Regions from separate parts of the Homo sapiens genome. Here all the other regions are linked to region 7. Evidence: fine-mapped expression QTL. A gene starts in region 7. Each other region holds a variant in brackets. All regions are shown on one strand. Distances are between the middles of the regions.

Region 1 (4,213 bases), 120 kb after region 7:
CAGCAGGGCCCCCACACAGCCCACAGGCACCGTGGGCTGTACACTCTGTGGTGCTTTCTTATTAGGAGTCAACCTGTTCAATTTTTTTTTCTTCTTTTATAAAATGTACTCAAGTCACATATAATTTCTACACCACTCACAGGTTGTACAACTGCCATGCAAATGCATTTCAGATTTACTTTTTTTTTACACAGTGAACCTTCTTGATTTTTATTTTGTTTTATTTTATTTTACTTTATTTTATTTTAAATATAGGGTCTTGCTCTGTGGCCCAGGCTGGAGTGCAGTGGTGTGATCATAGCTCATCGCAGCCTCAAAACTCCTGGGCTCAAGCAGTCCTCCCACCTTGGCCTTCCAAGTAGCTGGGACCACAGGCATGTGGCCACCACCCGCACCTGGCTAATTTTTAAATTTTGTATAGAGATGGAGTCTCACTGTGTTGCCCAGGCTGGTGTTGAACTCTTGGCCTCAAGTGATCCTCCCACCTCAGCCTTCCTGAAGTGCTGGGATTACAGGCATGAGTCGCTGCACCCAGTCTGGGTTCTTAACAAGCCTATGCAAAATTTAAAATCTCTGTTGCATCTGTCAGTCTCGAATCTCAAAAAATTACCTTTTGACCTGTCAGGCAAATTGGTTTAAAACATTCAAAATGTCCTGGCTGGGCACGGTGGCTCACGCCTGTAATCCCAGCACTTGGGGAGGCTGAGGCGGATGGATCACGAGGTCAGGAGATCGACACCATCCTGGCTAACACGGTGAAACCCCGTCTCTGCTGAAATATAAAAAATTAGCCGGGCATGGTGGCGGGCGCCTGTAGTCCCGGCTACTTGGGAGGCTGAGGCAGGAGAATGGCATGAACCCGGGAGGCAGAGCTTGCAGTGAGCCGAGATCGCGCCACTGCACTCCAGCCCAGGCGAGAGAGCGAGAGTCTGTCTCAAAAAAAAAAAAAAAATTCGAAATGCCCTTTTTCTTAACTCCATTTGAACCAGCTCACATCGATGGGCACAAGCGTCGCCAGGAAATTCAGTGTGGTAAGCTTGGCACCTACTCATGGCCACCGTGTCCTGAACTCCCTTTCCTGTGCTCAGGCCCCAGCCCACGCAGCAGGAGGACACACTGCCGAAGGGACCAGTTGGACGGCCTTCTGGCTTTAGCGCCTGTGCCTTTCAGGACCTTAAATACAGAAAGGAACCGAGTGCTCTGTGCAGCCCCTCCAAGACGGTCGCTACAGCGCCAGCACCACCTGCGCCGGGCCATCATGCCGTGACCGGACTTGGTTTACGAATACAGTGTACGAGGTTAAGATATGATAAAGTGTAAAAATATATGTTATAGCCACGGTGGTTAGTTTAACATGTTTTGTATATATGATTTTTATAAATCTATTAAAATGTGCCTTAAATTACACCTGTTTTCCTGGCGTGTTATGTCCCTGCCTCCCCCGCCACTGCTGAGAAGTGGGGGGCCCCTGAGTGTGGCACCCACCCGCCGCTATCTTTTTTTTTTTTTTTGAGACGTAGTCTCGCTCTGTTGCCCAGGTTGGAGTGCAGTGTCGCGATCTCGGCTCACTGCAACCTCCACCTCCCAGGTTCACACCATTCTCCTGCCTCAGCCTCCCAAATAGCTGGGACTACAGGCATCTGACACCACACCTGGCTAATTTTTTGTATTTTTAGTAGAGACAGGGCTTCACCGTGTTAGCGAGGATGGTCTCGATCTCCTGACCTCGTGATCCACCCACCTCAGCCTCCCAAAGTGCTGGGATTACAGTGACCCACTGCGCCCAGCCCACCTACTGCTTTCAAACAGAAGAATGTGTGTGGCAGTGGATTCTGCAGCATGCGTCGCATCCACGGGCTTCCAGAGTGCGTTCCACCGTGGGGCAAGCACCTTTCCCGAAGCAGAGGCCTCCTCACATCTTCCACACATCTGCGGTGCGCGGCAGGAGAGTGAGGTGAGCGCTCAGCACAGGGCCCGGCTCAGGCCTTAGTCCCTGTGCTTCCACTCCTGAGCTCCACCCTCCCCTGGCCTTTCCATCCCTCCCAGGCACAGGCGTCCTGGGTTGCTCTTCCTCCCGGCATTGGCAGGAACCTCCCGCGCCACCCAGTGT[G/T]TCTTCAATAGAGTCGGTCGTTTTGCAGCTGCTGGTCGCCACCACCAGACCTGTGGGCGTAAGGCAGGCAGCCAGCGATGACAGCCCGCAGGGTCACACAGGAAACATGCTGTGACATTCGTATAAACAGAAATAACGGGCTGGGCGTGGTGACTCACACCTGTAATCCAGGCACTTCGTGAGCCCGAGGCAGTAGGATTGCCTGAGCCCAGGAGTTCAAAACCAGCCTGGGCAACGTGGCTGAAACCCTGTCTCTACCAAAAACAAGTTTTTAGTTAGCTCAGTGTAGAGATACACACCTGTAGTCCAGCTACTTAGGAGGCTGAGGCAGGAGAGTCGCTTGAGCCCAGGCATTTGAGATAAGCCTGGGCAACATAGCAAGACCCCTGTATCTAAAATAATTTTTTTTTTTTAAAGGCTGGGCGCAGTGGCTCACACCTATAATCCCAGCATTTTGGGAGACTTCGGTGTTTCACTTGAGGTCAGGAGTTCAAGACCAGCCTGGCCAGCACGGTAAAACCCCGTCTCTACTAAAAAATACAAAAATTAGCCAGGCTTGGTGGCAGGCGCCTGTAGTCCCAGCTACTTGGGAGGCTGAGACAGGAGAATCGTTTGAACCCAGAAGGCGGAGGTTGCAGTGAGCCAAGATCGCACCACTGGACTCCAGCCTGGGCAACACAGACTCTGTCTCAATAAATAAAAATTCAAAAAAATAATGATCCCCTCCAGCCCCCAAAACACACACTAGTCTTTCTCTTTTTGTCACAGCGCATAAAAAGTGTTCACCCTGACGTGGGGAGACATGGAAACGGGGAGTGAACATTTGTGAAGTGACTCTTCATTTGACAGGTGTTTTAAAAGCCTCCAGCAGTGACTAAGTGTTTGTGGATGGGCGTCCGCGTGGGTAGATGAACCGGTCCATGTCAGCAGAGGAGCCGAGTCTCAGAGGGGAGCCGCGCTTTGCACGGAAAGCTCTGCAGCAGTGCGTGGCAGCCCTGTCGGTAGGTTCCCGTCGGCTCCTTGCCTTCTCAAATGCAAGGAATTGCTTATCGAATTCAACAGACACATTCTCTTTTCATTTAGCCTTCCAGAATTTCATCCTCTTCGTTTAAGCCCTTTTTAAAATTTGGAGTTGAGGCTGGGCACGGTGGCTGACGCCTGTAATCCTGGCACTTTGGGAGGCCAAGGCGGGTGGATCACGAGGTCAGGAGTTTGAGACCAGCCTGGCCAAGGTGATGAAACCCCATTTCTACTAAAAATACAAAAATTAGCCGGGCATGGTGTGGCAGGCACCTGTAATCCCATCTACGTGGGAGGCTGAGGCAGGAGAATCGCTTGAAACTGGAAGGCAGAGGTTGCAGTGAGCCAAGATCACACCATTGCACTCCAGGCTGGGCAACAAGAGCGAAACTCCATCTCAAAAAAAAAAAAAATTGGGGTTGATAGCATTTATTAATTTTGAGAATGAAAATGTAAGATGTAAGCATTATAGAAAAGCTGAGTAACAATTTATTTTGTATATCAAAGTCGTCCATCAGTCATTGCAGTATAAAATGTTCCAGGTGTATTTCCACTTGGACTGGATTTTTAAAAATAACTGTGCCATACAATCGAGCGGTGATCAAAGCTCATGTAATTAGGGCTAAGTCGTTCCCGTTGGGAGAGGCTATTGTGGGACTTGTGCGTCGGGCCAAGGGATGCTCTGGGCTCTGCTGTTGGAGCAGAGGAGGGAGCTCTGCCAGGCGCGCGGGCCTTTGCCCTCTTTAGGCATTGCTCCTGCTTGGGGGTCCGTGACAGACATCAGGTTATGCCATCAAGAGCCCCACGTGAAACAACTGCCTCCAAGTGGTGCAGGCGGGAGAGGCGGCCGGAGGATGGCAGGAATAAAGAGACACCCCCCTTCCGACAGGGGCCACCTGCCGTTCTGTCGGAGGAGTTGGGTTGGCAGCCGACAAAGCTGCTGCCCGCATCCTGCCCATCCAGTAAAGGCCTCGAGCCCTCACAAGGGGGCGCCCAAGAGGACGGCCACCACCCACCCAGAAGGGCACAGGTAGAATGTGGTAGAAGTTTGATCTCACTTCAGATGGGGGGGAAAAAAAAAAA
Region 2 (4,213 bases), 100 kb after region 7:
ATCTGGGATATTTGAGTTGATAACTTCTGATTGTTTTTGCCCCTGATGATGAATATCTTCCATATTTTGAATAATTTAATTATATCTTGGGTATTATGGATGTCGTTTTAAGACTTAAATCCTGTTCTGTTCATCCATCTAATGTTGATATTTTTGCTTTAGCAGACATTTAACTTGGTGAGACCCAAACTGCCAACTTGGTCATGCCTGTGCTGGTGGTTGCTTAGATCACAGCAGAGACCCCTTTCAGTTTGCCCCCATATATACGGTTCAGGGGCCAGCCAGGCTCTTAGGCAAAGTTTATGCACAGAACTTGAGGTCTCCCTCACTGACTCTTTTCTTTTTGGAGTGTTCCCACCTTACCCCTTGGCAGTCCTGGTTGCCCCAGCTCTGTCCTCTTGTTCTCCTGGCCAAAAAGATGGTAGGCTTTCTGTCTGAATGTTGTTGTTGCCACACACCACCATGCCTGTGGCTCACAGGTGATGTGAGTGTGCACCTGGAAAATTGAGAAGAACCTACAGGTCTATTATTAGAATGAATACAGAGCTTAGCAGGGTGACTAGGCACAAGCCAATATACAGAAATCAGTTGTATTTCTATTCACTAGCAACAAAGGATTATAAAATGGGAAATGTTTAAAGATGCCATTTAAGAAGCACCATAAAAGATTACATACCTGAGAATAAATCTAAGGGAAGATGTGCATCACCTGTGTACAGAAAATTTATAAGCATTACCAAGAGGAATTAAAGGCCTCATTCAAAATCAAAACTCTGCAGGTGTTTGCGGGGACAGGGAGGGTAGACATTGACAGCTGACTTTAGAACTAATATGGAAACGCAAAGGGCCGGCGAGACTCAGTGCTTTCTTCACTTTGAGCACCAAAGTAAGCGAGGACAGAGATGAATTACAGCCCCTGGAAAATGACAGCGTCTGTGAGTCCATGTGGACAGCGATGAGATAAACAGGAGCAGGGCTCTTGTTGACAGTGGAATGTCACTCACAGACCAGCAAGCATGGAGTGGCACTGACTGGAAAATCATCTCGAAACTGTCATGTTAAACACTGGAGACATCGCAAAAACCCCAAGGGCCGTGGGAGGCAGCCCTCTTCTTCAAAAATCTCAGTGTAGGCTGGGCGTGGTGGCTCACACCTGTAATCCCAGCACTTTGGGAGGCTGAGGCGGGCAGATCACTTAAGTTCAAGACCAGCCTGGCCAAAATGGGGCAAAACCCTGTCTGTAGTAAAAATACAAAAATTAGCCAGGTATGGTGGTGCACCTCTGTAATCCCAGCTACTCGGGTGGCTGAGGCAGGAGAATCTCTTGAACCTGGGAGGCGGAGGCTGCAGTGAGCTGAGATCGCCCCACTGCACTCTAGCCTGGGCAACAGGGTGAGACTCCATCTCAAAAAAATAAAAAAATAAAAAAATTCAAGTGTTTCAGATTAAATGAAACTAAAGAGGCATGATAACTACATGTAAGTAATATACTAAATTCTGTGCTAGAGGAGGGAAATGGTCTTATAATGCTGTATCTGTATATATTAGATAAACCTCGGTGTCTAATACGTGGTAATTATGAGACAGTCATCCTAGATGAATACTCTTATCCTTGCGGCGTTCTCCTGAAGCAGCACCTGAAGTTGCCGTGGTTGTAGAAGCAGGTGTCCTCATTCTTAGGACATACCCTCTGAAGTTGTTAGGGGTAAACAACTTGCTCTCAAATGATGACGGATTTTTAAAAGTCTGTGTATTGAAAGAGAGCGAGCGAAGGATAAAGCAAATGAGAGAAGATGTGAACAGGTGAATCTAGAGAAAGACTGTATGAGCT[C/G]TTTGTACTATTCTTGCAACTTTTCACACATACCTCTGTCCTAGCCCCAAAGAGACTTGGAATTTGGGTTCTGGCTACTACAAAGGCTGGAATTCTGCTGTGAATTTCCCCAAAAAGTAGAAAGCTAACAGGCAGTCCAACTGTGACATGCCTGGTGCCGCACTTGCTGGGTTTTAGAGATTCTGTGGTGGAAGCCTCTGGAAACTGGGTGAGCTCTCCCCACCCCTAGCCCTGTTATTTAGGTTTTTGGGTTTTTTTTAAGAGACAGTGTCTCACTCTGTTGCCCAGGCCTGAGTGCAGTGGCGCAATCATGGCTCACTGCATCCTCAACCTCCTGGGCTCAAGTGATCCTCCCACCTCAGCCTCCCAGGTAGCTGAGACCACAGGTGTGCGTGCCGCCACACCTAGTCTAGGTGCTTTTTATCTAGAGGCAGGGGAATACCTTAAAACATACTGTAAAATTTCTTTCTAGCTCATTTTTCTATGATGATCCCTGTGATACAAATGAAGAATCTAAATCTATAGTGGTTTTTTGTTTGATTATTTGTTTGTTTGTTTGTTTGTTTGTTTTGAGACGGAGTCTCGCTCTGTCGCCCAGGCAGGAGTGCAGTGGCCCGATCTCAGCTCACTGCAAGCTCTGCCTCCCGGGTTCACACCATTCTTCTGCCTTAGCTTCCTGAGTAGCTGGGACTACAGGCACCTGCCACCACGCCCGACTAATTTTTTTGTATTTTTAGTAGAGGCAGGGTTTCACCATGCTAGTCAGGATGGTCTAGATCTCTCGACCTCGTGATCCGTCCGCCTCGGCCTCCCAAAGTGCTGGGATTATAGGCATGAGTCACCGCGGCGAGCCCTAAATCTGTAGTTTTAAGGGCTGAATCTATAATTTGAACTATTAAACATCTTATGAAACTGTTTAAGAATGAGCCCAACAGATACTCATAAACCCATTGCCCAGTATTAACATGTTGTTTACATTTCACCATCTTTGCCTCTGACAGATGAAAATCCACAAGTTCATAATTATATTTGTCGGCTCAAGCTGCCATAACAAAATACTCTGACTGGGTGGGTTAAACAACAGAAATTAATTTTCTCACAGCTCTGGAGATTGGAAATTGAGGATCTGGGTGGCAGCACCATCAGGTTCTGGTGAGGGAGGGCTGTCTTCCTCGCTTGCAGACGGCCAGCTTCTCACTGTGTCCTGGTGCCTCACATAGGACGGAGTGAGAGGGAGAGCTCTCCGGTCTCTTCTTATGAAGGCACTATCGTATCATGAGGTCCCTACCTTCAGTCACCTCCCAAAGTCCCCATCTCCAAATACCATCACACTGCAGGTAGGGCTTCCACATGGGAATTCTGGGAGCATACAAACATGCAGTCTATAATGATGATACAAATAGAACCACCTAGAAAAGATCACCAGGAAATGCCAGAAAACCCAGAAAAGATCACACTGGAGTGCCATTTCACAGCTAGTAGGATGGCCACCGTTTTTAAAAATCAGAAAACAGCAAGTGTTGGCAAGGATGTGGATAAATTGGAAACTTTGTACATGGCCCATGGGAATGTAAACTTGTGCAGCCGCCGTGGAGAACAGCTTGGTGGTCTTCAGAAAATTAAGCACAGAATTACCAAAGGACTGCCGGGCACAGTGACTCACACCTGTAATCCCAGCACTTTCAGAGGCCAAGGCGGGCGGATCACTGGAGGTCAGGAGTTCGAGACCAGCCTGGCCAACACGGTGAAACCCCCGTCTCTACTAAAAATACAAAAATTAGCCAGGTTTGGTGGCGCACGCCTGTAATCCAGCTACTTGGGAGGCTGAGGCAAGAGAACTGCTTGAACCAGGAGGCAGAGGTTGCGGTGAGCCAAGATCGCACCACTACACTCAGCCTGAGCAACGGGGCGAGACTCCATTTTAAAATAAAAAAAGAACTACCATAGGATGCTACAGTTTCACTCCTAGGTGTATACTCAAGAAATGAAAACAGATATTCAAGCAAAAACTTCCACACAGCTGTTTGTAGCACTGTTCACAACGGCCAAAAACTGGAAACAAAGTGTTCATCAACTGACAAATGGAAAAACAAACCACATATCCATACAATGGCATGTAATATACATATATATATATTGGCCGTAAAATGGAATGTTGCACTGGCCTGTGCCACAGCATGGGCGAGCCTCGGAAATGCCGCACCAAGTAAAAGAACCAGACACAAAGGGCTGCATGCTGTGTGAATGCGCTCCAATGAGAGATCCAGAACCGGCAAATCCATGGAGACAGAAAGCAGATTCGTGTTGTCAGGGTCTGGGCCAGGGCAGTGGGAGTGGCGGCTGATAGGCTGTAGAAGTGGTGGCCGTACAACATTTTGAAGG
Region 3 (4,213 bases), 75 kb after region 7:
ATGATGGTCCCACAGCTGTATGCATATGTCAGAAGTCATCAGACTGGGCAAGTTCACTATGTGCGGTTTCGTTTTTTTGGTTTTTTGGTTTTTTTTGAGTGGCAGGGAGTCTTGCTCTGTCGCCCAGGCTGAAGTACAGTGGCGACATGTCAGCTCACGGCAACCTCCACCTCCCAGGTTCAAGCGATTCTCCTGCCCCGGCCTCCCGAGTAGCTGGGATTATAGGTGCCTGCCACCTCACCTGGCTAATTTTTGTATTTTTAGTAGAGACGAGGTTTCGCCATGTTGGTCAGGCTGGTCTTGAACTCCTAACTTCAAGTGATCCACCCACCTCAGCCTCCCAAAGTGCTGGGATTACAGGTGTGAGCCACGGCGCCTGGCCTTTTCTTTGATTTTAATAATTTGGTTTACTAAGTCTGTTCCCTGTCCATTTGCTCTGCAAGGAGTCATCAGAGCCTGGCGCTTGCAGTACCCCCAGGTCCACGTTTAGATGATCTTAAAACATTGCCATAATCTTGCACGATGGCCTTGCACTTAGGCAGTGCCAGTATTCCTATGGTATACAGTGAAGGGGCATTCGGTTTCAGTAACTCTGATTTGTAATCGTCCTACGTGGAAACACAAAGCAACAAGCACAGGATCCCATTAGCTCTGCTGCCCAGTGAAGCATCCATGTTGCTTTGTTTTTGTTTGTTCTTTTTCTTTCTTTCTTTCTGTGTGTTGTTTTGTTTTGTTTTGTTGTTGTTATTGTTGTTGAGATGGAGTCTCACTATGTGGCCCAGGCTGGAGCTCAGTGGCTTTTCACAGGCACGCTTATCGTAGCTCACTGCATCCTCAAACTCCTGGGCTCAAGAGATTTCCCCCACTTCAGCCTCCTGGGTAGCTGAGACTACAGGTGTGCACCACCACGCCTAGCTAACTCTAACTTAATCTAATGCCAACTCCAATGGACAAGCATTGCCCTGTCACAAGCCTAGCTGAACTATGTCAGAATTGAACTCTTTGAGCTTGATATGGTTCTAGAGGCTATTGAGCCTCAATTTGAGCCTAAATTTAAAATTGTGTGATCATTTAATTTAATTTCCAAACGGGACATGTTTATAAATAAAACAAGACCCTATTAAACAATTTTGCCAAGATGATTGACTCAAATTGGGACTCTCCAGGGCAAGTGGGGCATATGGTTATCCTGTTTATAGTATATTATGGCAGTGAACCTCAGTAAAGTCATACATTGTAGGTTTGTTTATTTGTTGCTATCTATGCAGTTGAATAATGTTGAGGATATATTTTATTTTCCTCACAGTACCAGGCCAGTCTATAGCTTGAATTGAATCTTAGCTCTGCATGTCACTATGATCTATTTTATTGTAACTTCCTATTATAAACCTTTAATTTTATAAAAGCAATTTTGAAAAAGTACTTGCCCCCCCATGATTTAAAAAAACAAAAACACTTAGACTTAAAATGTAATGACATATCACTTTTCACCCATCAAATTCAGAAAAAAATTCAATTGATAATATCCAGTGTGTTAAGGGTATAAAGAAGTGGGTATCTTAAACCCTTGTTCATTAGGATATAAATTGGTACAACCTTTTTGGGAGAGAATTTGGCCAGAGCTGTGTTTTTTTTGTTTGTTTGTTTTTGTTTTTTCTGAGACAGAGTCTCACTCTCTCACCCAGGCTGGAGTGCGGTGGTGCGATCTCGGCTCACTGCAAGCTCCACCTCCCGGGTTCGTGCCATTGTCCTGCCTCAGCCTCCTGAGTAGCTGGGACTATAGGCGCCTGCCACCACGCCCGGCTAATTTTTTGTATTTTTTTTAATAGAGACGGGGTTTCACCGTGTTGGCCAGGATGGTCTCAATCTCCTGACCTCGTGATCCGCCGACCTCGGCCTCCCAAAGTGCTGGGATTACAGACATGAGCCACCGTGCC[C/T]AGCCGGCCAGAGCTGTTTTAAAAAATTAATATGGATACTCTTTGACCTAGCTGTTCTATTTACAGATACCTAGCTTACAGACATAATTATACATGTCCCAGAAGTGGTGTGCATGAGGATGGTTTCTGCAATGTTGATGGTAGTAGCAGAAATTAAAACTACGTAAATACCTGCCAGTGATGCTGTTTAAGTAGAATACCAGATGGCTATTAGAAGGAATGAAGGTCCACACAGAAACAGCTCTAAGGTGGCTGGGCATGGTGGCTCACGCCTGTAATCCCAGCACTTTGGGAGGCCAAGACGGTTGGATCACTTGAGGTTAGGAGTTCGAGACCAGCCTGGCTACCATGGTGAAACCTTGTCTCTACTAAAAATACAAAAATTAGCTGGGTGTGGTGGTGCACACCTGTAATCCCAGCTACTCAGGAGGCTGAGGCAGGAGAACTGCTTGAACCCAGGAGGTGGAGGGAGCCGAGATCAGCCCGGACAACGGAGCGAGACTCCATCTCAAAGAAAAGGAAATATATCTAAGGCATGGTAAGGGTAAAAACCAACTTGGAAAACAATCAATGTGTAGTAGTTTATCCCATTTATATAAACCAAACAAATCATTAAAGTGTAGATTTCTCCACATACAATATACACATATTAAATACAGAAACAAAGGTAGAAAAGTGTATGCCAAGTTGATAACAGTGATTAATAGTTGTGGGAATGAGTGGGAATGAACTCTCCTTTATCCATAGGTTTACTGTTTTTTTTTTTGTTTTGTTTTGTTTTTTTTTTACCTTGAGAGCATATTCACCTGTTACCTAATTTTATAACTGAATTAATTTTCTAAATGTACGTAACTGCATTATAACCATTTTGAAAGAAAACTTATTAGCATTAGGTTTTACTCTAACCTTTGTTTTCCTGAGTGTTACATCCATGATTTTAAGGGCATGTCTCAGGACTCTAGGATGTGATTTCATTTCACGCAGTCCTCGAATGCAGTTAGTGTTTTTCTGAGTTCTCTGAAGCAGAGAAATACTAGGAAAAACGTAGCTTGCTAAGCCAGGACCTCAAAAAGGAAGGCTACTGATCTTCACTGGATGAAGTGACATGACTTTGAAGCTGAGAGATCCAGGTTTGAATTAGCAATTCCTTAGTCACTACATTTGCTGTATTTAAACTTGGAAAACAGAAACCATTTCCGATCACTTATTTGGCAGCAAAACCTAATCTAACTCAATTTGGACTTGTTTAGTAGCAAAGCCTGGCCTCACATACCCGTGGCCATTTATAGTCTCCATTAGGTCTGTAAGCGGTAGCTCATGCCTGTAATCCCAACACTTTGGGAGGCCAAGGCAGGTGGATAACCTGAGGTCAGGAGTTCGAGACCAGCCTGACCAATATGGTGAAACCCTGTCTCTACTAAAAATAAAAAAATTAGCCAGGCATGGTGGCATGTGCCCGTAGTCCCAGCTACACAAGAGGCTGAGACAGGAGAATTGCTTGAACCCAGGAGGCGGAGGTTGCAGTGAGCCGAGATTGTACCACTGCACTCCAGCCCGGGTGACAGAGTGACTCCGTCTCAAAAACTAAAATAAAATAAAATATAGTCTCCATTAGTACAACTGTTCACACACACAAATCTATGTTATTGTAGAAATATTCTCAGATTTTATTTACGATGAGGATTTGGTAATGCATAGCATATGTACCATGTTATCTTTCCAAAATCTGAAAGTTTCTGAATTCCAAAATATATCTGGTGCTAAGGGTTTAAAGGTTAGGAGTTACAATACAAATGAAGAAGTAAAAAACTTGAAACGCGCCAGCCAAGAGTTGATTTTAAATAAGAAGACAGGGAAACAGTTGTTCTTGTGTGTGAGAGAGGGTACTATAAAGGGTATTCATGTCACAGTTGTTGATGGCAGCAAAACACTGGAAATGCCCCCAGGTGGCTATCGAAAGGGTCACATAAGTGATTGTACATTTATTCAGTGGAATGCAGCATAGCTATTTTTTTTTAAGTACCACAACTCTTATACTGTATACAAAAAATAACTCAAAATGGCTTAAAGACTTAAACATAATCACGAAAACTAAAACTCCTAGAAGAAAACATAGAGGGAAAGCTTCAAGATACTGGATTTAGCAGTGATTTCTTGGGTATGATACCAAAAGCCTAGGCAACAAAAGAAAACATAGACCAATGGGAGCACATCAAATGTAAACATTTTTGTGGGTACAGGGACACAATCAACAGAGTGAGAAGGCAGCCTATAAA
Region 4 (4,213 bases), 110 kb after region 7:
CTTGATCTGTCCCTACTTAGACGCTTACATCTGAGACCAATCCACGGTTACCTTTTCCTCTCACTCCCCAGTGGGACCCACACATGGGCTGTCTTTAATGCACACCCTGTCAGTCTGTGACATTGACAGGCAGGAACTGAACCAAGCATGTGGGTAGAAAGGCTCCAATTAGGAGCAGAGGACAAGAGGGAACCAGAGTCAGCCCCTCATGTACTGATCTCGAGGGTCTGGTCCTGTGCAGGGTTGAATGATCTGAAGCTCTTTTCTCGTGGTCCTAAATTAGCTGAAGGAAGTGCGTGAGGCCAGCAGGGGTCTGTGAAGGGGCAGCTTGCTGTGTGCAGAGACAGAGGTGACGGGCGAGGCTGCTGCAGTGCCTGCCTGACGGTGCTGACGGAGTTCTGAGCGGCAGCAAGCCGAGCGTGTGTCTTTCTCCCACCGGAGGTGTGGGTGACAGGTGCTTCCAGAAACTGCTGAAGGCTGCAGGCCTCTGCAGAAAGGCGGTCTCCTCATGGGCGTGTGTCGGCCTAGGTCCTGCCCAGTGTCACGACATCACATCTGCCCGGCTGTGCCCAATACAGGTGCACAGGCCCCATATCAACCTGCTGCTGCTGCTTGAAACAGACAACCCCTCTTTCACTGCCACCAGCCCCTGCTCAGGTTCATCCCTTCTGTTGCTCGTGAGAGGACAGACACATTCGTGGGACAGTTGAGGCAGGGGACAGGCCCCTGTCAGGTGTGTGCTCAGTGGCCGCTGGCCCCAGCCTAATGAAATTCATTTCATTTAATCCGCAAGTCCAAGTTTGTGTTAATCTTGAGTGGTGTAGGTTTTTCACACCAAGGAGAGTCCCGAGAGCCCACTTTGGATCCACTCGTGTTTCTAGATCGTGTGACCGCAGCAGCCGTTGAGAGGACTCTGGGCTCGTCTTGGCAGGCACAGTGCCTCTTTATAAACCCACCAAGCGGTTAATTTCATGTGGACATCTCAGTTTCTGCCACATGCATTTTCTCTAAAGAAATGACTGAATTCTCTTAGTGTTGAAAATGCATGGGATTGTAAACCTGGCCCTTTTAATGAGCTGCTGCTGTAAGACTTGAGGAGTCCGTCGCAAACGATCGTCCCGTGGGCTGCGTGCCCAATCAGCAGGTGCATTGTCCAGTCTCTGTTGGTGAACCGCAGTGCACCAAACCTCAGGGACAGCAAGAGTGCGGATGTGAGTGACAGCGTTCTGGATCACACAGGGTTGCTCTGTGTCCCCTTCTTCCCTCCCCTCCAGCCCCCATTAGAGAGCTTGTGGCACAGTCCCTGGCACCTTACAGTTCAGTGGCAGCTTTCCCACGGACCCCCTGGGCTGTTTCTCGAGATGAGGCCGCCCTGACATGAAACTAGATTTGACTCCTCTCCTCCGCCACTCATGCAAGATGACCGAGAGTCACAGATAAGTTTTCCTGCATTCCAAGTAGTGATACAAATGCTGTGATGAGTTAAATGAGCCATCCTCATTCAGTCATCGTGGAGAAAGCAGCAGTGAGTGTTTGCTGTGTTGTGAAGTGCAGCTGGGGGACTGATTGCAGACTCGAGGGGTGTTTAGACTCACACCGAGGGAAACGTCCCTCCTGTTTTCTGCTTCCCATCGAGCTTGTCCTGATTGTGCCCTCTGTGGTGCTTTTCCCCTTGCGTCCGTACTATCTGGGCGGAGCACGTGT[GTC/C]CAGGGCTTTGTGTCCTGTGGTGATAAGAGCACTGGCTGGGGCATCTGTGCCACTGTGACTCTCCATGCCTGACCCAGCTAGAACCCTGCAGGAGAACTGCCTCTGCTTCCTTCGTGCCTGGTGCCACCACCTGCCTAGAAACGGGCAAGGGTGGCTTGGGCTGTGAGCTGCTGCTACTCTCAGCTCCCTGGGGGAGCCCGTGGCCACAGGAGAGGGAGGGACAGTATGCTGATGCTTCTTGGGCTTGCGTGGCACCTCCCGAGGCCCAGGGGAGGGCAGGAGAGCAGGAGGAGGCAGGAGAGAGAGGCGCTGAGGAAGGAACTTGTCGTAAATCAGGGAGTGAGTGCACCCAACGGCTTCTCCCAGCTGCTTCCTGTCAGGGTGTGGAAGGAGGCATGATGTGCAGAGGACCGGGGGGACTTGGCACAGCCACGGGAAGGCGGCTGCCCCACCGGCCTCACGCTGGCTTCCCACATCACGGGGGCTTGGCGAGGAAGGGAGAGAGCAGGCACGAGAGGTCAGTCGTGCCGGGCCCTTGGGGTACGTTCACCCTGGCACTCCCGATGCCTTCCCTACTGCAGAGCTGGGCCTCTGCCTGGGGCTCTAGAGAGCCGGTGGTCACGAGGTGCACGTGCTCGCCCCGTCCTGCCACAGAGGAGGAGGATGTGTGCTCGCTCAACACAGGCAGTGCTGGGATGGGGAGACGTGTGTTTCTGTCCCCTCAAACAAAACACTCACTTTGAAAACATCCAGAGGCCTTCGTTCTAAAGTAGGAAGGTGGGCTCCTCCCTGAAGGAGCTTCCTCTCTGCTTTCTCCCCTCAGTCTGTCTGGGACAGAGGAGGAAGAGATAGACTGAGCAGGTGCTGGCCGCCTTTCTCCATCCCTTACAACGCCACGAGCTTCAGCGCCATCACGTAGTCCATTCTGATGGCCTTCTCTCCTTAAAATTCTCCTGCGTCAGCTCGCCACATGTGTATGACCTTGCCCCTGTACATTTCCATGAGAACACAGAAAGTGACTGCTCTTCCCACAAGCCCTGATGTCAGGGCAGCCTGGAAGCCTTGACCCCGCCTGCTGGTGTCTGTCTTTAGAGCAGGGTTCAAAGTGGAATCTTATAGAAAGTGGTATAATTGGTTTTTAATACGCTACCTTTGAAGGGACTCATTGCGTGCCTGTTCATATGCGGGCTGCTCTGTGGTCGGTGGTTGCGCTCTCCCGGCTCCTCCCGTGCCCCGTGTGTGCCTCGCATTTGGCGGCTCAGCGCTTCCTGAAACGGGGTCCTGGGTGATTCCGCAGGGCCCTTCGCACTATGGAACACGTCTCAGATTGTATCGATGATTGGTCCAGGCAGGAGAAGACTGGCCATCATTCCACCACAACAATCCAAATGGAAGATTCCCCTGTGTTTGCTACTATAAATCAGGTCATAAAAATGTGGGAAGGAATAATGGACTCTTTCTAGAAACTGGAAGATGTTTTGCTAGATGCTCCTTTTCGTCAGGATGTTTTGTCTTTAAGGACAATGTCTTGGGTCCCTTAGGCCATCTTCGACAGAAGCAAGACTGTACCCAGGAGCCAAAATCTAAAATCCTATTCTAGCCTGTCCTTTGCTGGCCGCATGGCCAGGAGTGGGCCAGCCTTCATGTCTGGAAAGAGAGTCCCCCATCAGAGGGGCCTGCATCGCACCACACACCAAAACCCAGCAGCGAAAATTGAAAAACAGCCAGAATTTGAACCTTGGGGTTGGAGCTAAAGAACCTGCATTAAACATTTTCTTTAATGGTAGTTTTTTTATTTTAGAAAACACACGGACACTCTCTGCCTTTTTCCTTTGCTTTCCCATTCACACGGAGGCGAAATGCCACTGCTCTTACCCTGTTCAGTTCTTGTATTTGCCACATCAGGATTCCTCAGTCCAGACTGAGCTGTGAATATTCTTCCTTCCTGACAGGGGGAGTCGGTGAAGTACTTCCTGGACAACTTGGACCGGATCGGCCAGCTGGTGAGTAAGCACGCCCGCCCGAAGAAGCTGGGCTCCAGGGTTAGAAAACGTGTCCAGAGACCAAAGCAGTCCACGTTGTGAGGACTTTGGCTGGACTGACAGGCCGAGCTTGTTCTGTCACATTACCACGAATAGTACTGTAATGGCACGCTCTCACTTGGATCTGGGCCCCGTCTCAGTGGGGAGGGGAGGAAACTGCCTTTGCCCAGATCACCATAAAGGAGACAGACAGAGGAGTTCATGAGTGAAAGGAGGACTTCCTTTATCTCATGGAAAATTCAAACATACTCAAAAACAAATAGTCTAATGAAACCCCAGGCATGGCAGTTATCACTGATTACCAGTCTTGTTTCAGCAGCCCTCCCCCGGCCTCCGGGAGCAAATGCAGAGAATATTTTAGAGTGTACCTCAAAAAGACAAGACGAAAAATGACAACCGCAGTACCGTATGGCTCCTGAAAAATTGGCAGTAATTCCGTAATGTCAACCTAGTCAGTTTAGAGA
Region 5 (4,213 bases), 90 kb after region 7:
ATCACCAGTTTTTCCAGCACCATTTGTTGAAAACTTTTCCTTTCCTCATTTGAGTTGCCTTGTCAATTTTTTATAAATCAATTGGCCATATATGTGGGGGCCTGTTTCTGCACTCTCATTTCTATTCGGTTGATCCATATTACTTTTCTTTTGCCGATGATAAACTCTGTCACTTTCTAGCAAGTTGAAAGTTGGTATTATGAAAACGTTGTTCTTCTTTATAAAATGGTTTGTTATTCTGTGGTGTTTTGAAGAGATAAATTTTAAAATGAGCTTGTCAATTTCTACCAAAAAAAATGCCTGCTGGGATTTGTATTGAGACTGGTATTCAATCTAGATCAATTTGGGGAGCATAAACAACAATGTTGAATCTTCCATTTCATGAATATGACATAACTCTCCAATTATTTAGGTTTCAAATTTTTTGCCCAAGTGTTCTTCAGTTTTCAGTAAAGAAATTTTTCACATTTAAAAAAAATTTCCTGTTTTAGCCAATGCAGTAAGGCAAGAAAAGGAAATGCAGGGTAGACATATCAGAGAAAAAGAAATATGACTGTTCCTGTTGGCAGATGGCACAGAAAATCCCAAGGAATCTACCAGAAAAGTCATAGACTAATGAGTCAGTTTAGCAAGGCTACAGGATACAAGATCCATATACAAAATATAAATTTTACTTCTATAGACTAACAATGACCAATAGACACATGGAAACAAATTTAAGATGCAACACCATTAACAGTCATTTTAAAAATGAAATACTGTGGTGTAAATTTAACACAACATCTAGAGGACTTGTTTGATAAGAAGCACGAAACACTCAAGAAATGAGATCTAAACAAATGGAGGGATGTGCCGTGTTCATGGAAAACTCAGTGCTGTCAAGATGTCTGTTCTCCCCTGATTGATACACAGATTTGACACAATTCCTGTGAAAATCGCAGCAAGATCTTTTGTAGACATGGATGTGATTATTGTAAAATGTATGCGGAAAGGCACTGGAATGGCCAAAAATGTTTGAAAAAGAATAAAGTGGGAGGGGCCACTCTCCCTGATTCCAAGGCCTGTTGTCTCCCTGCAGTGGTCAGGCCTGTGTGGTGCTGGCGCAGGGAGAGACACGAGGTCACTGGACAGACCCGTGGATCGCTCCCCGCCAGCACGCCCGACTGATTGCAGCCAAGGGCAGAAGCAACTCAGTGAAGAAGGAGAGCCTTTTCAACAAAGGGTGCTGGACTGTCTCTGTAGGGAAGAAAAAGTGAACCTTGACCTAAATCTCTTATACAAAATTAATTCAAACTGAGTTACAGATTTCAGTGTAAAGCGCAGAACTCTAAAACTTGAGAGAAGATAACAGTAGAAACTCCTTGGGGCCTAGAACTTGGTGAAGAATTCTTAGACATGACGCCCTAGTGATCCGTTGAAATCAAATTTTGAGAAACGGTCATTTTTGTTTCATCAAAATTTGAAATGTTTGCTCTGCAAAAGTCCTCCTTTTGAGGCAGGGTCTCACTCTGTTGCTCGGACTGGAGTGTAGTGGTGTGATCATAGCTCACTGCAGCCTCAGTCTCCTGGGCTCAAGCAGTCCTCTTGTCCCAGCCTCCCCTAATAGCTGGGACTACAGGAACGCAACACTATACCTGGCTAATTTTTTTTTTTTTTT[TA/A]AAGTAGAGATGAGGTCTCACTATGTTGCCCAGGTTGGTTTCGAGCCCCTAAGCTCAAGGGATCTTCCTGCCCTGGCCTCCCAAAGTGCTGGGATTACAGGGGTGAGCCACCGTGCCCTGCCCAGATCCTCTTAGTAAGAGGATGAAAAGACAAGCTACAGACTGGGAGAAAAGTATTTGCTGACTACATATCCGACAAAGGACTCATTATCTAGAAAACAGAACTCTCAAAACAATACTCACCAGTACGAAAACAATCCAAACAGAAAATAACAAAACATATGAAGTGATTTCACCAAAGAGGACATGCCGATGGCACATAAGCACGAGAAGACATCCAGCCTCTCCAGCCATTGAGTCACTGCCAATTAAGGGAGATGCAGACTCAGACTGCTGTGAGCTAGCACTACACACCTATTAACACAGATACAATAGAAAATAGTGAAAATAACAAATGCTGGTGAGGATACTGAGAAGCTGGGTCTCATTCATCACTGGTGGGGAGGTAAAAGGGTACAACCGTTCTGGAAAAGAGTTTGGCAGAGAGTAACGCTGAACTTAAGGGTTTAGATGTAGATTCTCTGGTCACTGAGCATATCCAAGTGAACAAAGCACCTAAGATGCGCCGCCGGACCTACAGAGCTCGTGGTCGGATTAACCCATACATGAGCTCTCCCTGCCACATTGAGATGATCCTTACTGAAAAGGAACAGATTGTTCCTAAACCAGAAGAGGAGGTTGCCCAGAAGAAAAAGATATCCCAGAAGAAACTGAAGAAACAAAAACTTATGGCACAGGAGTAAATTCAGCATTAAAATAAATGTAATTAAAAGGAAAAAAAAATTAAACATACACTTATACAGCCCGGCAGTCACACTCCTGGGCATTTACCCTAGAGAAATGAAACTTACATCCACACCACACCTGTACATGAATGTTCACAGAGTTTTATGTGTAATAGCTAAAATACAGAAACAACCAAAATGTCTCTAGATTGGTAAATGGTTAAATAAACTGCGGCACGTTCAGACCATGGAATTCTCCCAGCAGTAAAAAGGGGCAAGCTACTGACAGATGCAACAGTGTGAGCAGATCCCAAGGACATTATGTTGAGTGAAAAAAGCCAACTTCCAAAGGCCACATGCTGCCAGGTGCAGGGGCTCACACCTGTAATCCCAGCACTTTGGGAGGATGGCTTGAGCCCAGTAGTTTAAGACCAGCCTGGACAACATAGCAAGATCCCATCTCTACAAAAAATAAAATTAGCCAATCGTGGTGGCATGCACCTATAGTCCCAGCTACTTGGGAGGCTGAGGCAGGAGGATCATTTGAGCCTGGGAGGAGAGTTTGCAGTGAGCCATGATCATGCCGCTGCATTCCATCCTGGGCAACACAGTAAGACCCTGTCTCTTTTTTTAAAAAAAAAAAGCCGCATGCTGTATGGTTTCACTTTAAGTACACTCTAGAAAAGGCAAAACTATAGGAACAGAAAACAGATCAGTGACTATACATTCTAGAGATGGAAATCAGATTCGTGGTTACCAAGGGATTAGGGATGGTGGAAGAAGGAGGATGGCTGTGATTATAAATTGGTAGCACGAGGGAGACCGTTGTGGTGGGACAGTTGTGTCTCTTGATTGCAGTGGTGGTTACACAAATCTAGACAGGTGACAAAGTGCATGGAACCACACACACATTGTACTAACGTCAGTTCCCTGGTTCTGATATTGTACTATAAGAACAACAGATGTAACCACTGGGGAAAATGCATGGCAGGTCCACCTATACCTCTCTAGGCAATCTTTGCAACTTCCTATGCATCTATAATTATTTCAAGATGAAAAGTTACGGCAAAAAAAAATTCACGTTTCTTAGTACTATTAAAAACGGAATTGCTTTTACAATGTTTAGATTCCATTGGGTTATTGGCAGTATGTAAAACATATACTTGATTTTTGTGTAGTAATCTCTTATCTTGTGAATGTGCTGAACTCACGGATTGATTCTGTTGCTAGCTTTTTTATAGCTTCCTTAGGATTTTGTGTTTGAACAGTTAGGCGATCTGCAGATTGTTTTATTTCTTGCTTTCCAGTCCCTGTGTCTTTTGTTTCATTTGTTCGCTTGCTTGCTGTCTTGCTTTTTGCTGTTAGTCTTTCTAACTTAGCATTGACCAGAAGCAGTAAAAGTGGGCATCCTTGCCTTACACCCAGTGTTAGGGTGAAAGTACTCAGTGGTCCACCATGACTTAGGATGTTAGTTGCATGGTTTTCATAGATGCCCTTTATCAAACTGAGGAAGTTTCTTTCTATTAGTCTGGTGAGAGAGGACTTTTTTTTTAAGCCCTGAGCATGTGTTGAATTTTTTCACATGCTTTTTTTCTGCATCTATTGAAACATTCGTATTTTTTTCTTCCTTATTTTGCTAAAATAGTGGCTGTCTTCTATTGACATTTTTTATGTAGTTAGGTTTAAATTGCTAAAGTTTTGTTAAAGATATTGTGTCTTTTCAAGGGGAGAGTTGGTCTGTAATTTTTCTTTTTTGATAATCTTGTCGGT
Region 6 (4,213 bases), 67 kb after region 7:
TATTCCTGAAAGAAGGCTTACAGTTGAAATAATTCTGGTTAAATATAACGTACCCTTAATCTGAAAGTTTCAAAGGGTGGTAGTATCAACCCCATTCCCCATCCACTTTTACCAGATTTCAACAAATTTAATCAGCTTCCACAAGAACTGAGTAAAGCCCAGGGAATGAGAAGAGCCCTGGACTCTCACCATTTTCGCTACATATTATTGAAGCTTCAGTCCTTAGCTATCAAGGAAGGCGGTATTAATACCCTCCTTTTAGACTGACTCTGAGAGATGTGAAAACATCTAGCACCATGCTTAGCAAGTAGTATTTGTTTACCTACCTGGCTCTCTGATTTTGAATTTCTTTTGTGCTCAGCAGTGGGCTATGAGCTATAGGAGGAACGATTTTCTTCCATTCATCTCCCTGAGAGCCAGGGGTCTGAACTCCTGAAGTAGGGGCCTGTATTACCCAACTTGTGGAGAGATGATCACAATTTAGCCTCCAGCTCTATGTAAGTAGGGAGCTGTTGGTGTGAGTGTCATGGAAGAAATCAGACTTTAACTTGGGTGGTTTTGAATGAAAGATGAAATTCTCAAAAGAGATAGGAGGGAGGTGGCACAGATGGGCTGATGCAATCCATAAGTGGTGATCGGAGACTCAGAAGCCAGCCTGCTCTTGTGAAAAAGCAAGGCCTGCCCTATTCTGGCTGTTCTTAGGAGAGGTTTTGTGAGAATTTTGCGTTTAAGCCAAATGAAATGCTTGATTTATTAAGTTGTTATGACTTTTTTCTTTTCTCTTTTTGAAAAAATTGTGGCGAAATATGCTTTTTTTTAAGTCTCTTCTCACTAAACCTTCTAGCAGACCAGTATTAACAACTGGACACATGTATCCCAGCGAGTCTTTGGAAAAGACTATGCCGCTAAGGCGGCATAGTGTAGCTCGTGTTTGAGCATTTCCTCGGAGACATTCCTGTGATGTGAGTGCAGTTGTGATTTGCTGTTTGGTAAATAGGAGATTGAAAGGCCCTCCTCTTCTGAAGTTGGAAGACATCTTTGCTGGGATCACCAGGGACACCTCACAAGTTTTAGTTGATCTTTTTAAAATTTCCTTGCTTATGAGTTCAAGGTTTAGAAACAAATCTGAGTTTATTTATGAGCCTTTCACATCTGAGTGGGCAGATTCCCCAGGAGTAGTATTTTCATCATGTTTTCTGTCTTAGCTGGAGCTGCCATAACAGTTCCACACACTGTGTGGCTTGAAAACAGACATATATTTTTCACAGTTCAGAGGCTGTGAACCCAAGATCAAGGTGCTGGCCGGTGGGGTTCCTGGTGAGGGCTCTCTTCCTGACTTGCAGACAGCCACCTTCCTGCTGCTTCCTCACATGGTGGAGAGAGAGAGAAGCTCTGATGTCTCTCCGTCTTCTTATAAGGGCACTAATCAGGTCATGCTCCCACCTATGACCTCTTCTAACCCTAATCACCTCCCAAAGACCCCACCTCCAGATACCATCCCACTGGGAATTAGGGATAGGAATTTGGGGAGGCACAGCCATTCCATTCATAACAGTGTTGTGATATTGTGAAGTATACATTTGGTCTTCCTTTCCATTTCCAAACATATAGCTTCGCCCTTTCAGGCATCTGGTATAATTGAACTAAGAGACAATATCATCTCTTGTTTTGAAGCTGCTTTCGAGGTATTAATATACCATTGGATTTCTATCATATGGCCCATTTATTCATTCCGTTACCCTCTGCTACTAGTCCTCCTTTTCTTCATTTATACCCAAGCGTCCACGTTTGAAAGGAGCATTAGGTTCAGTCACTGTGCTGGTCTGGATTGCAGGCAGCAATAACCTAGCCAGTGTCTCCCCTCAGTCCACTCCCATTCAGATAGGGTAGGGCTACACAGGTGCAGGACTAGGGGGCTGTATTTACCACCAGGAAGTACAGCTGCAGTCACCGTGAACCCCAGTTCTCCCAGATGGGGTAAAGGCACAACCCACCCCCATCAGGTCCTTGGAATTCCAGTGTAAGGTTTATTCTTATTTTATTATTGAGACAGAGTCTCTGTCACCCAGGCTGAAGCACAGCTGCACA[G/A]TCACAGCTCACTGCAGGCTTGAACTTTCAGGTTCAAGTGATCCTCCCACCTCAGCCTCCCAAAGTCCCTGGATTACAGGCATGAGCCACCTCTCCTGGCCCCGACGTAAGGTTTAAAAACAGTACAGTTTCTTGCTTAGGAACCAGCTCTGCTTCCAGCACTGGGGTTGCAAGACCTGGTCCTAGGATCACTGCACCAAGTGGGAGCAGGGTGGCCAAGCTGAGGTGATGCAAGGAAGGAAGAAAAATGTGTAATCCTTATGCCAGCCTGCTCCTCTCTCGGCAAGAATTGTGTGGTCACACCAGCCTCCTTCCCAGCCCCTCTTTCCCTGATCCACAAAACAGGAACATCGAATGGGGACGTCCTTTAGCCGTTGAATGTGGGCCAGCCCTTCATGCTTTCATCGCCCCTGTCTTAGCCAGGGTTTTAACTCCCCGTTCCGCTGCTCTGTCAGACTCACTCCGAGGAGGATGCGTCTCTGCCCGTTGTTGGACACCGTGGGATGTACAGTGTGTCCCCTGGTCTGAGGAAATGACGGTCGGTGTCCAGATCCGAGCAGTGTCTTCTGTTCTGTTCTTTCTATAGCACTCTGAGCACTGGCCTCTTCCACCAGGCAAGCAAAGCCCAGTCCAGAGTCAGTGTTCACTCTGGTTAAGACCCATTTGTTGGCTGGGCGCGGTGGCTCACACCTGTAATCCCAGCACTTTGGGAGGCTGAGATGGGAAGATCACTTGAGCCTAGGAGTTAGAGACCAGCCTGAGCAAGGATTGCTGAAGCCCAGGAGGTTGAGGCTGCAATGAGCGGTCTAACCTGGATGACAGGGTGAAACCCAGTCTCATAAAAAAAAATCAAAAGACCCATTGTTAGCCCCCAGGGCTATACTTGCCAGCTGTGTCCAGGGCCTTCCCACCAGGGGAGCTGCCCCATAGCCACCGGCAGTTTCTGTCTCTCCAGCTGGCAGGCAGAATGGCTGCATTAAGCCTAGCTGTACGGACCTTTTCCACAGTACGGGTCTGGGCCCTGTGCCCCTGGGTAACCTGTCCAGGTAGTGTGAGGGATGAAGGGAGGGGAGGACTCTGCCAGCTCTGTGGGAGGCTCCTTAGGTGATTCTGAGCCTGGCCTGTATTGAGAGCCACTGATGAGCCTCTGAGGTCTCTTCCACTTGTGACGTGATTCGGAGCCTGGCCCTCTGCTTTAATTCATAGGCAGAGTTTGATGGCAGATATCTTCTCCTAAGAAAGCCCGTCACGTTAGAACAGGCTGTTGGGTAGGACACAGGCGTTTAGTATCCAAGTTTCGCAGATGCCCATAGACCAGGCAGCTCTGTTTTGCTTCTGCGTTTATGAAAAGAGCTGGCAGAGTGCTTCGGCTCCAGGCCTTTTCGAGACACTGGGCACGACGTTCCTCCTGAGCTGCTGTGGCTGAGATAGAAGGGATCAGCAATGGAGGCTTTATTTGCAGATGATTTTCCTCCTCTCGGTTTGTCGTTCCCACTCTTCGTCTTCCAGAACCTTTTTAGACCCCATGACTTCAATCCTCATCACCCAGGACATTCAGGCTGGCTCTGTCTCCTTCCCATCAACTTAATATGACCGTATCTAACCCTAAATGAGGCTGCAAAATTAAAAGCAGCATACTAGCACCAGAGAAAGGATATCTTAAGCCTATTCAAATCAAACCTCAACACCCTGGAAGCTGGCGCAGCGGCTGCCTACAGAAAGGAGAGCTAGGGAGCTGAGACACTGGTTTCTCTAGCGTCCTCCTCCCCTGTTACGAATTTGGTACTCTGTGCATGTATTGTCTATCCAAAAACTTGAAAGATGTTAGTCATCCTCAGTAGAGGGGAAGTAACTCATCACATAGTGAAAAGTCCAAATTGTTTAACTCTTTAAGCCACGTCTGGTGCCACCAAATTGGGAAGGGATGTCGGTAAATTAAATTGTGCAATTCATACTCTTTTGAGAATATTATTAATATTGACTCTCATATCTTGACTGCCTGCTGTGCCAACCACTGTGCATGAGTCAACCCAACCCCAGGTAAGAAGGTGGCTCAGTAACACAGATAGCTGCGTAAATATGTGACAGTGTTTAAAAGGGGGGAAAAACAAGTACCCTGGGCTTT
Region 7 (4,213 bases):
CAGGCTGGAGTACAGTGGCACGATCATAGGTCACTGCACCCTTGACCTCCTGGGCTCAAGTGATCCTCCCACCTCAGCATCTCAAACTGCTGGGACTGTAGTTGTGAGTCACCGTGCCCAGCCTTCTGGGGAGTTTAGATCTGTGACTAAGCAAAAAGAACAAATCTGGAGGCATCACTTTACCTGACTTCAAACTATACTATAAGGCTATCGTCACAAAAACAGCATGGTACTAATATAAAAATAGGCACAGAGACCAATGGAACATAATAGAGAACCCAGAAATGAAGCCAAATACTTACAGCCAACTGATCTTCAACAAAGCAAATGAAAACAAAGTGGGGAAAGGACAGCCTATTCAGCAAATGGTGCTGAGATAATTGGCAAGCCACATGTAGAAGAATAAAACTGGATCCTCGTCTCTCACGTTATACAAAAATCAACTCAGGATAGATCAAAGACTTAAATCTACAACCTGAAACCATAAACATTCTAGAAGATAACATCGGAAACATCCTTCTAGACGTTGGCTTAGGCAAAGACTTTGTGACCAAGAACCCAAAAGCAAATGCAACAAAAACAAAGATAAATAGATGGGACTTAATTAAACTAAAAAGCTTCGGCACTGCAAAAGAAATAATCAGCAGAGTTAACAGACACCGCACAGAGATTGGACTTTGGGGACTCAGGGTAAAAGGTGGGGGGTGGCGAGAGATAAAAGACTACACACTGGGCCAGGCGCGGCGGCTCACGCCTTTAATCTTAAGGGATACCTGAGCTCCTTCTAGGAGGTTCTGATTCAGTAGATCTGGGAGAGTCAAGAATCTGTAATCAGCTGATCTCTATCAAGAGCTGATTTTGGGCTAGCTCACGTGCTAAGTGTTTGGTAAGTTCATGTTCTCAGTTTATATCTTCATGACGATTTGAGCAATGTCAAGCCATAACCAATGTCGTCAATGACACCCCCGTTTTACAGATGAGGAAACGGAAGCTAAGAACATCCAAAAGGGTTTGTTGGGGGGGGTGGGGAAAGCTGCTAAAAAAAGTTATGCAACTAGTACACCTAGTAACTGGTCGACTGGAGATTCCAACTCAGGCCCAGCAACTCCAGACCCCACTCTCTCAATCACTGTGAGACATAAGACTTTTGGGGGAGCTTCTGGTGATTTTAGTGATTAGTCAGCTTTTCGCAAAGCCTCCTAGAAGCCCATGCCACTCTCAAAGGGTGCATGTGTTTGAAATTTATGGCCCATCCCCCTCCAGTGTTTCTGGAAGGAAAATAGTGTAGAAACAAGATCATCGGAGGGAATACGACGAGCAGCTGAACCTCTTATCAGCATTTCCCAGCCTTTGGGCTACTCCGCGAGGTCCTGGTCTCACAGGCGGACCCAATCTGGGAACCAAGGGAGAATCTTTCTGTACACCTGGCACTTCTCGTCACGCCCCGTCCCCCGAACACCCAATCCAAAGCCCGTTGGGCACGTCTGATGTCCACTCAGAGCAATTATAATTGGCCATGGCGGACGATCGCTCCGCCTCCCGGGCGACCCCGCCTCCCTTTCATTCTGAAAGAAAGAACCTCAGCCTGGGCGTCCAATGAGAAGCGCCTTCACCTCAAAGATCCCGCCTCTTTCGGCGTCGACCCCGCCCCGAGGCCGGAAGGGATGCCCGCCTCCCTTGGCGAGATGAGCCAATCGAAGGGCTCTCACGGCCAGATGGACGGCAGCCGGCCCAATCCGCCGGGCCTCACGCGGCGCCGCCCGCCCCTCCGCCGGGCCCGAGTGGCGGCCGGGCGACGAGTGCGGGCCTCGGAGCGACTGCAGCGGCGGCGGCGGACGCGGCCTGAGGCGAGCGGCGGGGCGTGGGGCGGTGCCTCGGCCCGGGCTCGCCCTCGCCGGCGGGAGCGTCCATGGCCCCCGGGCGCCGGCGGGGCGCGGCCGCGGCCTGAGGGGCCATGTCCGGGGTGGTGCGGACCCTCAGCCGCTGCCTGCTGCCGGCCGAGGCCGGCGGGGCCCGCGAGCGCAGGGCGGGCAGCGGCGCGCGCGACGCGGAGCGCGAGGCCCGGAGGCGTAGCCGCGACATCGACGCGCTGCTGGCCCGCGAGCGGCGCGCGGTCCGGCGCCTGGTGAAGATCCTGCTGCTGGGCGCGGGCGAGAGCGGCAAGTCCACGTTCCTCAAGCAGATGCGCATCATCCACGGCCGCGAGTTCGACCAGAAGGCGCTGCTGGAGTTCCGCGACACCATCTTCGACAACATCCTCAAGGTGACGCGCGCCCCCCGCCCAGCACCTGCACCCAGGTGGGCCGGGGCGCTAACCCCCGCCCCGGGCCCCTCCGTGGTCCGCCGCCGCGGGCGGGGACCCCTGGGGCGAGGATGCTGGATCCAGCCCCGCCTGCACCCCACTCCCCCCCGACCCATTCCCCGAGGCCTGCTGGCGTCGTCTCTGCCCCACCCCGTCTCGCCCTTTTTGAGATGGGGTCTCGCTGTGTTTCCCAGGCTTGAGTGCAGTGGCGCCCTCACAGCTCACTGCAGCCTCGACCTCCCAGGCTCAAGCCCTACTCCCTCCTTAGCCTCCCGAAGTAGTGGGATTACAGGCGCGCACCACCAGCCCAGCTAATTTTTAAGTTTTTTTTTGTAGAGATGGGGTCTTGCTGTGTTGCCCAGGCTGGTCTCAGTCTCCTGGCCTCAAGTGATCCTCCTGCCTTGGTCTCCCTCAAGTGCTGGGATTATAGGCATGAGTCATGGCGCCCGGTCTGCCTCTGCCCTCTCTAGGGTGCCTGGGGACCGTGGGAGTGGGAACTCGGGCCAGCTTCTGGGGATGGGGAGTGGGGGCTTGGCACTTAGCCCCCTCCTGGATGTGCCCTAGCAGAATGGTATCTGTCCATTTCCCACTGGAAGATTTGTGGGATAGGAGCCCAACCGGCCGTGCCCTCCGGCTGAGCTTAGAAGAAGAGCAGTGGAGACTGGACGGGAACCAGCCATGAGTCTCTTTTTACTTTTCTGTTTTTTTAGAAAGGCTCTCACTCTCTTGCCCAGGCTGGTCTCAAGCCATCCTCCCACCTGGGCCTCCCAAAGTGCTGAGATTACAGGTGTGAGCCACACTTTCTAATACGAAAACTTCAAATGTATACAAAAGTAGAGAAAATAGTAGATTGACTGTAAAGTACCTACAGCCCAACTAAAGCAGTCATCAATTCTGTGCCAATCCTATTCACCTGTGCCCTCCCCATGGTCTCCAAGCAAATCCAACTTTGTGTAGTTGGATTAGGAAACGTTTTAGGATGTATATGAGTGGCTAAAAGATGAGGCCTCCATGTAAAAACACAACCGCAGTACCATTAGCAAACCTAAACATTAGTAATAGCTCATTATCACCAGATATCCAGTGTTCAGAATTCCTCCATTGTGGCATAATTGTTTTGTGTGACTCGACATGCATTGCAATGAATCTCCAGATTCTCCTGTCTCTTGCTTCCTTTTTTCTCTTCGCCATATTTGTGAAAGAAGCTGTAGAAGTCGGCCAGGTGTGATGGCTCGTGCCTGTAATCCCTGCACTTTGGGAAGCTGAGGCAGGAGGATCACTTGAGGCCAGAAGTTTGAGACCAACCTGGGCAACACAGCAAGACCTCAGTGCCACAAAAATGAACACATTAGTTGGGCATGGTGGAATGCACCTGTAGTCCCAGTTGCTTGAGCGGCTGAGGTAGGAGAATTGGTTGAGCCTGGGAGGTTGAGGCTGCAGTGAGCCATGTTTGGGCCACTGCACTCCAGCCTGAGTGGCAGTGAAAAAAAATAAAAGAACCATAGAGTTGATAAAGTCGGGGTTCCAGTCTCTCAGTACCGTGAGCCTGTGTTAAAGGGCCTCAAGGAAGATCTGGAGGAAACTGATGATGAGGGAACAGTGCAGCCTTGCTTACACCTAGATAGCGTCCTTTGTCCTCCCTCCCTTTTTCCTTCCTTCCTTTCCTTCTTTTCTTTCCTTCCTTTCTTTTCTTCCTCCCTTCCCTTCCTTCCTTTCCTTCCTTTCCTTCCCGCCTTCCTTTTCTTCCTTTCTTTCTACCTTCCTTCCTTTTTTCTTTTCTTCCTTCCTCCCTTCCTTTCTCCCTCCCTCCCTACCTCTCTACCCTTTCCTTGTCCCCTCACCACTTTTTCCCCAGCCCATTTTGGGGAAACCAAGTTAGAGGCGAGGACAATCATCTCAAAGCAGAGTCGG

What was found.
Region 1: its variant is fine-mapped to the expression of GNA12 in whole blood (TOPMed, PIP above 0.99). The same link has a PIP of 0.9 or more in lung.
Region 2: its variant is fine-mapped to the expression of GNA12 in whole blood (INTERVAL, PIP above 0.99).
Region 3: its variant is fine-mapped to the expression of GNA12 in whole blood (TOPMed, PIP above 0.99).
Region 4: its variant is fine-mapped to the expression of GNA12 in whole blood (TOPMed, PIP above 0.99).
Region 5: its variant is fine-mapped to the expression of GNA12 in whole blood (INTERVAL, PIP above 0.99).
Region 6: its variant is fine-mapped to the expression of GNA12 in whole blood (INTERVAL, PIP above 0.99).

The regions. Positions count from the first base shown.
Region 1 is chr7:2,719,014-2,723,226 of GRCh38, reverse strand. It overlaps AMZ1 (archaelysin family metallopeptidase 1), which reads right to left. Exons shown (of 7, transcript NM_001384743.1): 7 at 3,544-4,213. Among named protein-coding and RNA genes, the nearest start is that of AMZ1, 33 kb to the right of the region's middle. The variant G/T (reference allele first, on the strand shown) is at 2,111.
Region 2 is chr7:2,739,234-2,743,446 of GRCh38, reverse strand. The region is part of intron 2 of GNA12 (G protein subunit alpha 12); the gene reads left to right. It also overlaps a transcript of AMZ1 not described here. Among named protein-coding and RNA genes, the nearest start is that of AMZ1, 53 kb to the right of the region's middle. The variant C/G (reference allele first, on the strand shown) is at 1,832.
Region 3 is chr7:2,767,178-2,771,390 of GRCh38, reverse strand. All of the region lies in intron 2 of GNA12 (G protein subunit alpha 12), which reads left to right. Among named protein-coding and RNA genes, the nearest start is that of GNA12, 75 kb to the left of the region's middle. The variant C/T (reference allele first, on the strand shown) is at 1,938.
Region 4 is chr7:2,732,948-2,737,160 of GRCh38, reverse strand. It overlaps GNA12 (G protein subunit alpha 12), which reads left to right. Exons shown (of 4, transcript NM_007353.3): 3 at 3,660-3,710. It also overlaps a transcript of AMZ1 not described here. Among named protein-coding and RNA genes, the nearest start is that of AMZ1, 47 kb to the right of the region's middle. RefSeq lists an enhancer at 2,435-3,422. The variant GTC/C (reference allele first, on the strand shown) is at 1,705.
Region 5 is chr7:2,752,028-2,756,240 of GRCh38, reverse strand. All of the region lies in intron 2 of GNA12 (G protein subunit alpha 12), which reads left to right. It also overlaps a transcript of AMZ1 not described here. Among named protein-coding and RNA genes, the nearest start is that of AMZ1, 66 kb to the right of the region's middle. The variant TA/A (reference allele first, on the strand shown) is at 1,658.
Region 6 is chr7:2,774,779-2,778,991 of GRCh38, reverse strand. All of the region lies in intron 2 of GNA12 (G protein subunit alpha 12), which reads left to right. Among named protein-coding and RNA genes, the nearest start is that of GNA12, 67 kb to the left of the region's middle. The variant G/A (reference allele first, on the strand shown) is at 2,089.
Region 7 is chr7:2,841,903-2,846,115 of GRCh38, reverse strand. It overlaps GNA12 (G protein subunit alpha 12), which reads left to right and starts at 1,808. Exons shown (of 4, transcript NM_007353.3): 1 at 1,808-2,263. The coding sequence starts at 1,955. RefSeq lists enhancers at 1,315-1,444, 1,427-1,721, 1,684-2,501 and silencers at 1,615-1,944, 2,285-2,334.